Linked DNA regions of Homo sapiens: region 1 is linked to region 2. Evidence: fine-mapped expression QTL. Tissue or cell type: cerebellum. Region 2 holds a variant in brackets; the other region holds the start of a gene. All regions are shown on one strand. Distances are from middle to middle.

Region 1 (8,082 bases), 76 kb after region 2:
GGAAATTCCCACCTAATAAATTTTGGTGAGACCGGTTGGTCTCAAAACCCTGTCTCCTGATAAGATGTTATCAATGACAATGGTGCCCGAAACTTCATTAGCAATTTTAATTTTGCCTCGGTCCTGTGGTCCTGTGATCTTGCCCTGCCTCCACTTGCCTTGTGATATTCTATTACCCTCTTAAGTACTTGATGTCTGTCACTCACACCTGTTCGCACACTCCCTCCCCTTTTGAAAATCCCTAATAAAAACTTGCTGGTTTTTGTGGCTTGTGGGGCATCACGGATCCTACCAACGTGTGACGTCTCCCCCGGATGCCCAGCTTTACAATTTCTCTCTTTTGTACTCTCTCCCTTTATTTCTCAAGCCGGCTGACGGTTAGGAAAAATAGGAAAGAACCTACGTGATTATTGGGGCAGGTCCCCCGATAGAGTGGCACATGATGGGCACAGGGCAGGCTTGGGAAATGGGGGGCCGTAAGGCCACAAGACATGTGGGCAGGTAGCCCAGAGTGTGTCTGGAACATCCTGTTTATTGGTCGGCAGTGACATCTACTGTCACATTTGAGAACTGCATCCACAGCCACATGACCTCCTGTGAAGACCTCAGGGCAAACTGGGGAAACCTGCCCTTCTTGGAAGGTGATACTAGGGGGGATGAGCAACACCTTTCTTGGAGGTTTGAATTCTTCAGGGCCCCTCCAGCATCTTGGTCTTCCTAATTCCTCCCTTGATCCCCCAGCCCTAGGGGTGGTAGCTTCTTGCAGTGTTTACCTCCGTGTTAATCTGGATTCTCTCTGTCTTCGGAGTTCTCTAATGCCTGGTTACCAATTCTTTATATCAAGTTCTCTCCGTTAAAATCATTGTGGTGGGGTCCATCCCATGGATATACATGGAGGTCTGTGTGACAATGTATAATCTTACTATTTGCAGTTATTACAAAACTGTCCTAGAAGACATGAATGCTTGTTAAAAGAAATCTTTTAAGTTTCCTAGACTTCAAAGACCGTTGCTATGCCCTGTGAAACATCGCCTATATCCTTTAACAGTTTGCAATTCGAATTGGTTACTTACTTAACATTTTGTTGCCCTGGTGATACAATTATGTTGACTCGTTATTGTGAGGTTACTTTGTTATTAACCATGATGAGGATTACTAGCACATACTTTTACTCCATATGTATAACACAACAATGTAGTAAAACCAATAACTCTTGGTTCTCTATTCAAAGTGTTTGGAATCTTTATTCTGTTTAAAACACTGATGACATTTGCCAATTTTTGAGTGTTCTTCATGTTACTGATTTGTAGGAGCTCTTTATATATTGCAGATTTAGTCTCTTACTGGTTATGTATGCTGCACCTGAGGAGTAGCAGCACTGCCAAGGACACTGAGTGTCTTGTCTGTGCAGAGCTTCACATGAAGCTGGAGAGAAGGGACTGGGGCAAGAGGGAAAGATAAAAAGGGGCAAGTAAGTAACAGAATGAATCCTTGTTGCTAATCTCCTGGCCCCCATCCCAGACCCTTCAGGGGATCCTGGCGATTCGAAGCAGCATAGCCTGATAGGCCTCTGGTGAGGGTGTTGGGAGGGTTTTCTTGGCCGCCTGTTCCAGGATGCTCAAGATGATGCTGTGGGCCTCCTGGCATAGCTCAGCACCCAGGAAAGCCTCCACTCGTCCACGCCATGCTGCCAGTCGTGGCCGTCCCTCAAACAGTTCATAGCCGAGAGCCACCGGCTGTAGGGACAAGGATGAAAAAGTTGTGGGCATACAACTTTCCCAGTTGTCACTGCCGACCCGAATGCTGGAACCATGGGCAGAAGTATCAGAGACATGGTCCATTCCCCAGCCCCTAAGTGAATGGACCACAGGGGCCCAGGCAGTATGTTCAGCCTTAGAGCCCAAGAGCAGCCAGGGTGAGACCCCACACCCAGGCAGGAGGCAGAAGTTCAGGGTTCTGGCCCCAGATCATCCAGAGACTTGCTCTATGATTCTGGGCAAAGTTCTGGCTTTCTCCAGGCCTCAGTGTTTCTGTCTGCCTCATGGGTGTGACACGAAGAGGGACACTGCCCACAGGCTGAGCTCACACCTGCATCAGCTCCTCCAGGGCCATGAGATCAGCCAGTGTCACCTGCTGGCCAGCGAGGAAGGGCCTGTCCCCCAGGAACTTGTCCTCCAGCCATTGCAGGGCCTGGTCCATGGCAGTCCTGTTGCGTTCCACCTTCTCCTCGGGCACCTGGACCCCAATGAGTGGCCCCAACACCTGATGGGGGCAGAGAGTGGGTCAGTCTATGGCCCCGGCCTACTGCCAACTACTCCCTGATGGCCAATCACTCTCCAGATGGCTCTCCTCACCTGGACCCACAGGGGTATACCAAAGGTGCCACGGATGCAGTCGGCATGCCAGCCCAGGTACTCATGAACACGGGCACGAGCCTGCAGGTCAGATGGATACCAGTGGTCCGGCGTCTGGTACTTACAGCTCAGGTAAATCAGGATGGCCGAGCTGGGAACAAATGGGCAGTGGCTATAAGGACACTGGCACCAGGCATTTACCCCTAACTGCTCCCATCTGCCAGTGGGGCCCGGGGGCTTCTCTGCATTTGAAGGACTGCCCTCCAGCCTCGCCCTCCATCTCCAGCTCCCCAACACCACCCCCTCCTCCTACGAGTCTCCTCCTGTCTTTGTTGCCTTGGGCACCGACTCTTGGCTGGACCTTCTGCTTTGCATTTTGAGAACCTCATCTCTGTGATATGCCAGCAGCCGCCCTGTGAGGTAGACACTCCTGTTAGCCTTTTAGCACAAGAGAAAACTCAAGGTCAGAATGGTCAAGTGACTTGTCCGAGGCGGTGCAGCTCAGAATAGGCTCCCTGGACCCCTGGAACCCTGCATGGGGCTGGCACACAGTGGATGCTCCGTGGAGTCCCTTGCATGTCCACGCGCTTGGGTCAGGGATCACGAGGGGAGGAATGTCTTTGGCCCCCGTCTGACAGGCCCCCAGCCATCACTTCTGCAGCCACCTGACCTCTTGTCCTTTTCCTGCCCAGCAGCTGGACCTCACCATGAGCTGTGCCCTTGGGCCATGGCATTGGCCTCTAGGCCCGGCCTGGGTAGATTGGGTAGTCTGCAACAAGTCACTAGAGGCTCTTTTCAGCTAGCATTTGTTGAACAAATGCGCAACAGTGGAAAAATGTTCCCTTGTCTTCTCTTCTAATACCCTTCAGTCTGGGAGTGGAGAGGCCCTGCGGCTCAGAAAAGGCTGGAAGATGAGAGGTGGGGGGACATGTTCTGTCAGCCCCTGCTCATCCCGGTCACACCCCAAGCTGTACCTTCTCCCCAGATACCTCTCCTTTCTTTCTTTCCTTTTTTTTTGAGACGGAGTCTCCCTCTGTCGCCCAGGCTGGAGTGGGCTCCCTCTGTCACCCAGGCTGGAGTGCAGTGGTGCTATCTCTGCTCATTGCAAGCTCCGCCTCCTGGGTTCACGCCATTCTCCTGCCTCAGCCTCCCCAGTAGCTGGGACTACAGGCGGCCGCCACCACGCCCTGCTAATGTTTTGTATTTTTAGTAGAGACAGGGTTTCACCGTGTTACCCAGGATGGTCTCGATCTCCTGACCTCGTGATCCGCCCACCTCGGCCTCCCAAAGTGCTGGGATTACAGGCGTAAACCACCGCGCCCGGCCTTTTTGAGACGGAGTCTAGCTCTGTCGCCCAGGCTGGAGTGCAGTGGCGCGATCTCAGCACACTGCAAGCTCCGCTTCCTGGGTTCACACCATTCTCCTGCCTCAGCCTCCAGAGTAGCTGGGACTACAGACGCCCGCCACCACGCCCGGTTAATTTTTTTTCCATTTTTAGTAGAGACGGTGTTTCACGGTGTTAGCCAGGATGGTCTCGGTCTCCTGACCTCGTGATCCGCCCGCCTTGGCCTCCCGAAGTGCCGGGATGACAGGCGTGAGCCACCGCGCCCGGCCAGATCCCTCGCCTTTCCCCTCCCTCGCTGCCCCATGGGGTATGGGAGGGCCACTGGGGCCCGGGGCCAGTGGGGAGAGCCAAGGTCACATGGGCTCCGGATGCGGTGAGGGGTGAGGGAAGGAGGGCACCTTTCGGTCAAGATGAAATCACCATCCTTGAGCGTCGGCAGTTTCCCCAGGCTGTTGATCTGCAAGAACTCCTTGCTCTTGTGCTGCCCTGAAGAGGAAGAAGTCAGAAAAGGTCTTCAGAATAAAAACGCTGCACCTCTACACCCTCCCTCCTCCTCCCCAAGCGGAGCCCCACAGCCCTGAGAAACAGCAAGGTCTGGGACTAGAGGCCTGGATCAGCCTCACTCCCTGGCTGGGCCTCCCTGCCCTGCCACATTCCGGGGCAGCTGGGGGGCTTTGGTGGGTGGGGCCAGGTGCAGCAGGTGGATAAAGAGAAGTTTTCTAGCCGGACTCTGGTGGGCCAGGGGAGGGGAGGCAAACTGGGGTGGCTCATCTCTTCCCATCTCTTAATTCTCACAACAGCATGTCCTTCTTCCCAAGGTCTTCTGGGCTTTGTGAATTTATATGCGTGCATTCCACGCAAGAACTCTGTCAACTCCATTCAGTATTTTCTTTCCATCCCTACAGAGCAGAAGGTAACATTATCCTCCTTTTCAGAAGGCAAGCTAAGGTTCAGAGAGGCTGTGATCCCTCCAAGGCCACTCAGTCCACAGCATTCTCTGGTGGCAGACGCTGCAGGAGGAGGTGAGGGGGCTGTGCGGGCGGCGAGACGCTCAGGGCAGAGCAGGGCGGGGGCCTGGGGGTGCACTGGGTTTGTGGACACGCGGGGAAACGGGCTGGGCCCACCTTTGACCAAATCCACGGTGCGCAGCTCTAAGGGGATGCCATTCTTCTTGGCGAAGATGTAGACGGCGCGGCTGGGCTGGGACACCAGGTCAAGAAACAGCTCTAGGCCCATGGCGGGGGCGGCAAGGACAGCGGGGATGGCAGTGAAGGCGCTGAGCGCGGTGTGGGCAGCAGCTGTGGCAGGATCCCGGCGCGCCGGGAAATAGGGGATCAGGCCCCACCCCCTGGGGACAGCACCCAATTGGAGCGCACCACCCCCGGACCCGCCTCGCCCCTTCGGTTCCTGTCCAGTCCTGCCGGCCAAGACTCCACCACCAGATCCGTGCGTCCCTACAGGGAGGGCGGTCGCTATGAACGCACAGCTGGGAGGGTGGAGTTGGAGCTGGGGACCCTCGACTGGCAGGGAGGACGCGGATGCAGGGGGCCGACTGCAAGGGGAAGGGGAACCGGCTGGACAGGGAGAAGCAGGTCTGCTTTTCGGGATCCCGGTGCCAGGGACCCTGCCCAGTTCCAGGCGTCGCCCTGACCCAGAAACGACTGGGCGCCGCCGTCCTGGAAAGGCCCCAGCGCACGGACATCTGAGGGTTCGTTCAGAGCTCTGTTTCTCGGCGCTGCATGGTGGCGGAAGGGAGGGAGCGAATGGGATCCCCTAAAAGGGATCTTAGAGTTTCACCCAGTGGGATGTGACACTTGCAGGTGTCCCAAACTGGTGGGAACCTTGACTGGAAGGCTGGGGTTAAGGATGAACTTTCTGCCGTCCAGACTGTCCCCTGCAGAGCAGCTGCTGCCAGACAGCGGGAGCTGCCAGACAGCGGGAGCTCCCACTTCGTGCACAGGATGGGGGCAGGGAGCCCGCAGCCGCGGGAGGCAGGAATGACTGTCCGGGAACCTCCTTTCTTCTCCCTGAATCCCAGCCCTGGCATCTCACCAGGGGGCACAGTGATGGTCCAGGGCTGGGCCCGGGACTCTAGCTGAATCTTTCAGAGTATCCCATCCCTCTGGCCAGTGGCCCAAGCGAGTGAACCAGAATGCTTCCTTGGGAGTTTTGAAACTGGAACTGGAGAGAGGAGCTCCCTATGGGGAGGTAAACGGGAGCTGGGGCCACCTGTAGTGACATTTCCTGAGTTCGAGGAGTAGACGAGACTGAGAGAGAAAAGCTGACTCAGAGAAAGGGAGTGATAACAGGGCATGCTGGCCCACACCTGCAATCCCAGTTACTCTCACGGGATCTGTTTCTCTGATGTCTGGGTATGAAAGGACTTTCTAAGCCTCAGAACAGTGGGAGAACTCAACAAAGAAAAAACCAATACATATACAAGGTTACTTTGTGGAGGAAAAAATGGATTAACCTTAAGCAAAAAACTGGGAAGGATCTCGGTAAAAGATACGTCAGAAGGAAGTAATGTCCTTTAAGATGTTCTTAGAAACCCATCAGACAGGTAGGGTGTGGTGGTTCACGCCTGTAATCCCTGTACTTTGGGAGGCAGAGATGGGCGGATCAGTTGAGGTCAGGAGTTTGAGACCAGCCTGGGCAACACGGTGAAGCCCCGTCTCTACTAAAAATACAAAAATTAGCTGGGTGCGGTGGCACACTCGGGAGGCTGAGACAGGAGAATCACTTGAACCTTGGAGGCAGAGGTTTCAGTGAGCTGAGATCATACCACTGCACTCCAGCCGGGCCACTGAGCGAGACTGTCTCAAAACAAACAAACGAACAAACAAAAAGAAGAGAAACTCATCAGACGAAGACACAGGAAAAAAATGAGCGAAGGAAATCAGCAGAGGTTTCATTGAAGGACAAAGAGAAATGGTCAATACATGGATGAAAACATGTTTAACTTCAGTAATAATCAAGGAAGCACACACCAACACAACATGCACATACTGTTTTTATTTATCAAAGGCACACATATTTTTGAAATGAGTACTCCTAATTAATATGTACAGAGCACTTACCCAGTGCCCAGCACAGGGGTGGCACCCTGTGTGTGAGACAGCATGAAACAGGTAGACACGCGCCCTGCTGAAAGTAAGGGACCGCCTCTCTGGAGGATCCATCGGGCAATAAGGAGGTTTCCACACCTTAACTGTGTCTGCCTTGACCTCTGGGGCCTGGGAGCAGAGCCCCCTCCAGCTGGTGGGGAAGGAAGCGTGGTGTGTTTGAGGACAGAATGGAGAGAAGTTGAGTAGAGCAAGTGTAGACTCTTCCTATCCAAAGTGTGGTCAATGGACTGGGAGTATCAGCATCACCAGGGAGCTTGTTGGAAATGCAGAGGCTCAGGCCCCACTCTGACCTTACTGATTGGGAGCATAAACTGTAACCAGATTCCAGGGAGGATTCATACACACATTCCCGTTTGATAAGTGGGGGGTAGTAGGAGGTGAGGTGAAAAGTGGGGAGGGGATGGCTACCGCACTGGAGAAGGCTGGCTTTGTGTTGAGGCCTTTCTCATGAGGGCAGTGGGGAGCCATGGAAGGCTTTATGCAAGAGAGGGTACGGGCAGATTGAGATTACAGAAGGATCCCACTGGTTGCCTTGTGTGAGGACCCAGGGAGAAGGGGGAGGCTGTCCCTGTTTGAGTAGGAGATGAGAGCTACTGGTGGCTATGAGTGGAAAGAAGTGAGCAGAGGTGAGCAGAAATCCCAAGGACTGGTGATGATAGGATGATGGTGGGAACCAGGATGGGCTTTGGGCAGACCCTGACCCCTCTCTCTGCCTGTCGGCCCACCAGATAATAATCCCTGTGTTCCTGGGCGAGTCAGTGCCACCCGAGATGTTGGCGGCCACTTTGGCTGAGCTGGACGGATGCTTGCAGCTGCTCGAGGACAAGTTCCTGCGGGACCAGGCCTTCCTTACTGGGCCCCGTATCTCTGTGGCTGGCTTGGTGGCAATCACGGAGCTGAGGCATGAGAGTGCCATGGGGTGCGGTGGCCCGCTGGGCAGTGGTGTATCCGGGAAGGGAGCTGACATCCCAGCTCATGTTGTCTTTTCTGGCTGTGGGACCCTGTGTGAGTCACTTCTCCTTCTGAGCCTCAGTGTCCTCATCTATAAAATGGGGCTTTACAAACCCCTCACCGCAGCTATATTAAGAGGCTTCCAAGTGTCCCCAGGGAGGGGGACATCCTAGCCCATCACACACATGGTGGAGGAGGGAAAATCCAATCAGAGAACCCCTAAAGCAGGTCATGCTGCCTTACACTTGGCTATGCCCAGCCCCTCCGCTGACTCTGTCTTCCCCTAGCCCATCAGTGCTGGCTG
Region 2 (8,101 bases):
TATTTAGGGTATGTCAGGCTACCGTGAATCAACGCCCTCAAGCCTCCTAAATGCCCCCTTTTCTAGTTGTGAGGGTCTGTGAGGCACTGCTTTAAGCTATACCCTTGATTTGATCTTTACTATGAGTCCATGGCTTCCTGGCAGTGCTCTGGATTTGATCTTTGCTCACAGGCTGTTACTTAATTTGGGATTCTTTTGCTAGCTGGAGAGGATAGAGGCGAGAAAACATTTTTTGTTGTTGTTTTCAACTAACCCAGTGTTTCTGAAATATGCTACGTTTAATTAAATTTTGTTGCCTCTGAATTCTGCTTGCAAACTGGCCAGTTATTTTCTGAGCTAATTCTTCATGTCTTACAGCAAGCTTAGAATATGCATCTAACAGCAACCAGTTCATGCTTTCAACATTTGGAGTTTTCTTTGCTCAAGTCCATAAGTTCACTGAGCCCATTTTCTTTCTTCCGTGTTACTGCACTATATAACATAGCTTTTCATTTCTCCAGCCTCATCGCCGTCCTCTGCCTCGTCTTGGAACTGATACCATATTTCACAGGTCTTTGTTACGGTAGCACCAACTCCTGGTGCCAATTTATTGATCAGCTTTCTATTGCTGACTAATAGATGATCATAACATCTCGGTGGTAAAGAAACAAAAAAAGCAATTATTTAGCCTAAGCCTCTAAGTCCTCTGGGCTGGGCTGATCTAGGATGGTTCTGGCTGATGGCTCTGCTGATCTTGGTCATTCCTGCAACTGCAGCTCAGCTGGGCATTGGCTGGCTGATCTAGAATAGTCCCAGTGAGGGTGGCTTAGCTGGGCCCCTTTGGCTGTCCATGTCTTGTCATCCTCCTGGCTAGCCTGGAATGTTCTCATGAAGGCAGAAGAGCAAGTAGAAGTGAGCAAGGCCTCTTAAGGCTTAGGCTGGAACATGGTACGCCCTCACTGCAGCCTCATCCTATTGGCCGAGCCCAGAGCCAGGAGCAGGGATGTAGGCAGTACTTGCCCCTTTAGTGGGAGGAACTGCAAAATCACACAGCAAGCAGTGTGGGTGCAGGGAGGGGTGAAGAATTGGGTTTGATAATGTGCTGCAATAGTCATGTCCTGTCTGATATGTCCGCAGAACCCTGCGTTTCTTTCTAAAGCCTTTTTTCATCCATGGTGGCAACACCGCAACAGCCCTGAGAAATGTCAGGGCAAGGAAGATCATCTCCATCTGACCAGGGAGGCAAACAGAGACAGAGAGATTGAGAGAGACAGAGGCAGAGAGAGAGAAACACACACACACACAGACAGACACAGAGACAGAGAGATTGAGAGAGACAGAGGCAGAGAGAGAGAGAAACACACACACACACAGACACAGAGACAGAGAGATTGAGAGAGACAGAGGCAGAGAGAGAGAAACACACACACACACAGACACAGAGACAGAGAGATTGAGAGAGACAGAGGCAGAGAGAGAGAGAAACACACACACACACACACACACAGAGACAGAGAGATTGAGAGAGACAGAGGCAGAGAGAGAGAGAAACACACACACAGACACAGAGACAGAGAGATTGAGAGGCAGAGAGAGAAACACACACACACACAGAGACACACACAGAGACAGAGAGATTGAGAAAGACAGGCAGAGAGAGAGAGAAACACACACACACAGACACAGAGACAGAGAGATTGAGAGAGACAGAGGCAGAGAGAGAGAGAAACACACACACACACACAGACACAGAGACAGAGAGATTGAGAGGCAGAGAGAGAAACACACACACACACAGAGACACACACAGAGACAGAGAGATTGAGAGAGACAGAGGCAGAGAGAGAGACACACACACACACAGACAGACTCAGAGACAGAGAGTGAGCCAAGAAGGAAAGGAATGGTGGGATGGAGGGGGGCGTCCCTGTAGGGGGACCAAAGAGGGGCTTGGGGACGGGGAGCTCAGTACCCTCCTCCCTGGCTCAGCACTACGGCGGCTCCGGGGCTCCGGGGACTTGGCAGGGGAGCTGGAGGAGCTGGAGGAGGAGCGCGCTGCCTGCCAGGGCTGCCGTGCCCGGCGCCCATGGGAGCTGTTCCAGCATCGGGCCCTGAGGAGACAGGTGACAAGCCTCGTGGTTCTGGGCAGTGCCATGGAGCTCTGCGGGAATGACTCGGTGAGACCCCTGCCCCGCCGCACACCCTGGGCCCCGGGGGCTTGGTGTTGCAGGCCGCTGGGAGCCATGGGAGGTGGAAGGGAGCCCAGGCCTGAAAGCCACCCTCTCCCAGGTGTACGCCTACGCCTCCTCCGTGTTCCGGAAGGCAGGAGTGCCGGAAGCGAAGATCCAGTACGCGATCATCGGGACTGGGAGCTGCGAGCTGCTCACGGCGGTTGTTAGTGTGAGTCTGGAGGGTGCCCTTCCTCCACCAGCCCTGTGGGGAGGGACCCCCAGGTCCTCTGCATTAAACCAGTTTACACTCCAGCTTATGGTGTTAAAATGCAGTGAGGGGCCAGGTGCGGTGGCTCATGCCTGTAAGCCCAGCACTTTGGGAGGCCGAGGTGGGTGGATCACAAGGTCAGGAGTTCGAGACCAGCCTGGCCAACACAGTGAAACCCCCGTCTCTACTAAAAAATACAAAAAATTATCCCGGCGTGGTGGCGGGCGCCTGTAATCCCAGGTACTTGGGAGGCTGAGGCAGGAGAATCGCATGAACCCAGTAGGTGGAGGTTGCAGTGAGCCGAGATGGTGCCATTGCACTCCAGCCCAGGCAATAGTGCTGAGGTGGGATCAGGAGTTGGAGACCAGCCTGGGCAACATGGTGAAACCCCGTCTCTACAAAAAATACAAAAATTAGCCAGGCGTGGTGGTCTTCGCCTGTAGTGCTAGCTACTGGCGAGGCTGAGGTGGGAGGATCACTTGAGCCTAGGAGGTTGAGACTGCAGTAAACCGAGATTGTGCCACTGCACTCCAGCGTGGGCTGGACCAGTGAGACCCTGTCTCAGCTCAGTGAGACCAGTAAGACCCTGTCTCAATCAATCAATCAATGCAGTGAGTTAGAGAGCATCTATTGAGCATCTACGGTTTGCGGGTCACTTCCAGCACCATTTTGAGATGCGGAAACTGGCTGAAGTTGGGTGATTGATTGACCAAGTTCCTTTGGGAAATTAATAAAGTCACACTGAAGCAATAAACTACCCTCACCTCCACCACCAGCTTTCTCAGGAGACCCCTTCCCATTGCCTGCCCCAGACCTCAGGGACCATGGCTGGGTGTGTGGGTCTGTGCTTTCTGCCTTTGCAGTGTGTGGTAATCGAGAGGGTGGGTCGGCGCGTGCTGCTCATCGGTGGGTACAGCCTGATGACCTGCTGGGGGAGCATCTTCACTGTGGCCCTGTGCCTGCAGGTAGCTGGGGTGGATGAGGGCTGGGGGGTCCAGGCCGGGCTGACTTCCACCTCACCCCCGCCCCGTCCACGGCAGAGCTCCTTCCCCTGGACACTCTACCTGGCCATGGCCTGCATCTTTGCCTTCATCCTCAGCTTTGGCATTGGCCCTGGTGAGTGGGCCCAAGGGGCTCTGGGCATCCATCATCACATAGAAGGAGTGATGGGTGCCTGGGTGCACAGTGGGTGGGTGTGAATGCAATGTCCCCTGCAGGCCCTCAGAGACCACCTCATGCCGGGGCTTCTGGGAGGGAATGGCAGGAGGAGAGCACTGAGGGGCCCCCCATACAGACTGGGCCTGGGCTCCCACTCCCATGTCTGGGCTGGGGTCGGGGAGAGGCAGGCAGGGAACCCTGGCCAGCAGCCCCCTGTCCCTGCCCCTCCTTCTAGCCGGAGTGACGGGGATCCTGGCCACAGAGCT[G/C]TTTGACCAGATGGCCAGGCCTGCTGCCTGCATGGTCTGCGGGGCGCTCATGTGGATCATGCTCATCCTGGTCGGCCTGGGATTTCCCTTTATCATGGTAGGCCCGCCCCTCCCGCTGGGGGCCCTGCCTTAGGCTGTGTCCCTGTCATCCTGAGAACCCCAGGGGGAGGCTTCCATCCAGGGAGACTGAGACTGAAAGGGAGGGGTCTTAGGGGAGCAAAGAGGGGGGCAAATGCCTCCTCACGACCTGTCATGGGCCTTCTGTTTAGGGGTTGATGGAGACACACCAGGTCTTGGGGTCTTTTTTAATCCGCAGGAGGCCTTGTCCCACTTCCTCTATGTCCCTTTCCTTGGTGTCTGTGTCTGTGGGGCCATCTACACTGGCCTGTTCCTTCCTGAGACCAAAGGCAAGACCTTCCAAGAGATCTCCAAGGAATTACACAGACTCAACTTCCCCAGGCGGGCCCAGGGCCCCACGTGGAGGAGCCTGGAGGTTATCCAGTCAACAGAACTCTAGTCCCAAAGGGGTGGCCAGAGCCAAAGCCAGCTACTGTCCTGTCCTCTGCTTCCTGCCAGGGCCCTGGTCCTCACTCCCTCCTGCATTCCTCATTTAAGGAGTGTTTATTGAGCACCCTTTGTGTGCAGACATGGCTCCAGGTGCTTAGCAATCAATGGTGAGCGTGGTATTCCAGGCTAAAGGTAATTAACTGACAGAAAATCAGTAACAACATAATTACAGGCTGGTTGTGGCAGCTCATGACTGTAATCCCAGCACTTTGGGAGGCCAAGGTGGGAGGATCAATTGAGGCCAGAGTTTGAAACCAGCCTAGGTAACATAGTGAGACCCCCTATCTCTACAAAAAATTTTAAACATTAGCTGGGCATGGTGGTATGTGCTAACAGCTCTAGCTACTCAGGAGGCTGAGGCAGCAGGATCACTTGAGTCCAAGAGTTCAAGGTAGCAGTAAGCTACAATCACACCACTGCATGCCAGACTGGGTGACAGAGGGAGACTTCATCTCTTTAAAACATAATAATAATAATTACAGACTCAGGAAATGCAGTGAAAGAAAAATACAGGTTGGCCAGGTGAGGTGGCTGATGCCTGTAATCCCAGCACTTTGGGAGGCCAAGATGGGAAGATTGCTTTGAGACCAGAAGTTTGAGACCAGCCTGGGCCACATAGTAAGATCCTGTTTCTACCAAAAAAAAAAAAAAAAAAAATTAGCTGGGTGTGGTGGTACATGCCTGTGGTCCCAGCTACTCAGGAGGCTGAAATGGGAGGATCACTTGAGCCTGGGAGGTCGAGGCTGCAGTGAGTCCTAATTGAGCCACTGCACTCCAGCCTGGACAACAGAAAGAGACCATGTTTCAAAAAAAATAAATACAGGTTGTAGTGGGTATGGGTATGCATACCAGGAGGCCCGACCTCGTCTGAGAGGGGAGTGGTCAGAAAAGAATTTTCTGAGGAATTGATGTTTTTAATCAACTTTATTGAGGTATAATTTATACATAACCAACTGCATCCATTTTAAGTATATATTTGGCGAGTTTTGAGTTCTAAGTATAGTTTTGGTGAGTGTATACACTTGGGAAACACCACCGTGATCAAGATGGAACCTTTACCCTACCCCAAGGCACCCACATGCCCATTTGCTATCAGTAACCCACCCCAGTCCCAGACCTGGGGAACCACTGACCTGCTTTCTGCCTCAATTGGTCAGATTTGCCTTTTTTCAGAATCTGAAGTCATTCCGTACTGTATGTACACATTTGTGTCTGGCTTGGCTCCAGATAAAGTTTTTGGGATTCATGAATGTTGTTGCACGTATTAGGAGAGACTCCTTTGTATTGCTGAGTAGTATTCCCCTCTGTGGTTAGACCATGATTTATTTATCCATCTACCTGTTGGTGAACATTTTGGCTGTTTCTAATTCTTGGCCATCATGAATAAAACTGCTGTGAATGTTCCTACAATAATAATTGTCTAAACATATGTTTTTATTTCTTTTGTGTCTTAGTCCGTCGGGCTGCTATAACTAAGAACCACAGCCTGGGTGGCTTATAAACAACAGAAATTTATTTTTCATGGTTCTGGAGGCTGGGAAGTCCAAGATCAAGGTGCCAGTGGATTCAGTGTCTGTTGAGGGCCCATGTCTTGATTCATAGATGGCGGTCTTCTTGCTGTGTTCTCCTAGACATGGCAGAAGGGGCAAGGGAGCTCTCTGGGGTCTCTTTTATAAGGGCACCAATCCCATTCATGCAGGCTCTGCCCTCATGACCTAATCACCTCCGAGGAGGCCCAAAGGCCCTACCTCCAAGTACCATCATATGAGGGATTAGGTTTCAAGGTATGAACCTGGGGAGGACATAAACAGTCAGTCTAGCTTTTTGGGTAAATGAATTGCTGGGCTTAATAATAAATGTATATTTAACTGTATAAAAATTGTTTTCCAAAGTGGTTGATTATATTGTTTCACATTCTCATTAATAATGTATGAGTTCTGGATACTCCAGATCCTCATCAGCACTTGGTATTGTCAGTCTCTTCAATTTAGCCATTCTAGTGAGTGTGTAGTGGTATCTTGTCATTTAATTGTGGTATTTCCCTAATGACTAATAATGTTTGACATCTTTTCATGTGCTCAGTATGGCCATTTGTGGGTTTTCTTTTATGAATAATTTGTTCAAATATTTTGTCTACTTTTTTTTGTTGTTGTTGTTGAGACAGGGTTCTCTGTCGCCCAGGCTGGAGGGCAGTGGAATGAACTCAGCTCATTGCAACCTCTGCCTCCTGGACTCAAGCGATCCTCCCACCTCAGCCCCCCAAGTAGGTGGGACCACAGGCGTGAGCCACCATGCCCTGCTAATTTTTGTATTTTTGGTAGAGATGGGATTTTGCCATGTTGGCCAGGCAAGTTTCAAACTCCTGACATCAAGTGATCCACCCACCTTGGCTTCCCAAAGTGCTGGGATTACAGGCATGAGCCACCGCACCCAGCCCTTATCTGCTATTTTTATCAGGTTGGTTGTCATTATTTTTTAAATGTGGGCATTTTTTATACATTCTGGAAGCTAGTACTTTGTTAAATATATAGTATTGTAAATATTTTCCTGCAGTCCGTAGCTTGCCTTTTTTATTTTCTTAATGCTACCTAAGAGCAGAATTTTTTTTTTTTTTTTTTTTTTGGAGATGGAATCTCGCTCTGTCACCCAGGCTGGAGTGCAGTGGCGCGATCTCGGCTCACTGCAGCCCTGCCTCCTGGGTTTAAGCAATTCTCCTGCCTCAACCTCCTGAGTAGCTGGGACTACAGGCACGTGCTGCCATGCTCTGCTCATTTTTTTGTATTTTTAGTAGAGACGGGGTTTCACCATGTTGGCCAGGATGGTCTTGATCTCCTGACCTCGTGACCTGCTCGCCTCGGCCTCCCAAAGTGCTGGGATTACAGGCGTGAGCCACCTGGCCCGGCCGAACAGAAATTTTTATTTTGGTAAAGTTTGATTTATCAGTTTTTGGTTTTTGTGATTCATGCTTTTTGTGCCATAAGATATCTTTGCCTATCCCAATGTTGCAAAGATTTTCTTCCAAATGTTGGATAGTTTTAGCTTTTACACTTATGTTGCTGATGATGAATTTCAAGTTAATTTTTGGGTATGGTGTGAGGGGCTGAGGTTCCTTTTTTTTGGGTGGGTGGGGGGAACAGGGTCTCACTGTGTGTTGCCTAGACTGGAGTGCAAGTGACGTGATCTCAGCTCACTGCAACCTCTACCTTCCAGACTCAAGCAATCCTCCCACCTCAGCCTCCTAAGTAGCTGGGACTACAGATGCGTGCCACCATGCCTGGCTAATTTTTTTTTTTTTTTTTTTGAGATGGAGTCTTGCTCTTTCGCCCAGGCAGGACTGCAGTGGCACTATCTCGGCTCACTGCAACCTCTGCCTCCCGGGTTCACGCCATTCTCTTGCCTCAGCCTCCCGAGTAGCTGGGACTGCAGGCGCCCGCCACCGCGCCCGGCTAGCCTGGCTAATTTTTGTTTTGTTTTGTTTTATTGTTTTTCTTTGTTTTTTTGTAGAGACAGGCTTTTGCCATGTTGTTCAGACTGTTCCTGAACTCATGGACTCAAGCCGTTCGTTTGCCAAAGTGCTGGGATTACAGGAATGAGTCACCATGACTGGCCCTTTTTTCTTTTCTTTCTTTTTTTTTGAAATGGCTATCTGGTCGTACCAGTACCATTTGCTTTAAAAAAAGCCATTTTTTCTT

Evidence for each region. PIP is the estimated chance that this variant, and not a neighbour inherited with it, causes the effect.
Region 1: GSTT2B starts here. The variant in region 2 is fine-mapped to the expression of GSTT2B in cerebellum (GTEx, PIP above 0.99). The same link has a PIP of 0.9 or more in cerebellar hemisphere, lymphoblastoid cells and skeletal muscle.

What each region holds. Positions count from the first base shown.
Region 1 is chr22:23,956,197-23,964,278 of GRCh38, forward strand. It overlaps GSTT2B (glutathione S-transferase theta 2B), which reads right to left and starts at 4,999. Exons shown (of 5, transcript NM_001080843.4): 1 at 4,824-4,999; 2 at 4,098-4,185; 3 at 2,355-2,505; 4 at 2,089-2,262; 5 at 1,218-1,736. The coding sequence starts at 4,935. The coding sequence ends at 1,527. RefSeq lists enhancers at 1-295, 296-903, 3,220-3,885.
Region 2 is chr22:23,880,491-23,888,591 of GRCh38, forward strand. SLC2A11 (solute carrier family 2 member 11) reads left to right here. Exons shown (of 12, transcript NM_001024939.4): 7 at 1,969-2,156; 8 at 2,269-2,379; 9 at 3,282-3,383; 10 at 3,459-3,534; 11 at 3,812-3,939; 12 at 4,159-5,822. The coding sequence ends at 4,359. Among named protein-coding and RNA genes, the nearest start is that of MIF, 9.8 kb to the right of the region's middle. RefSeq lists an enhancer at 7,872-8,101. The variant G/C (reference allele first, on the strand shown) is at 3,843.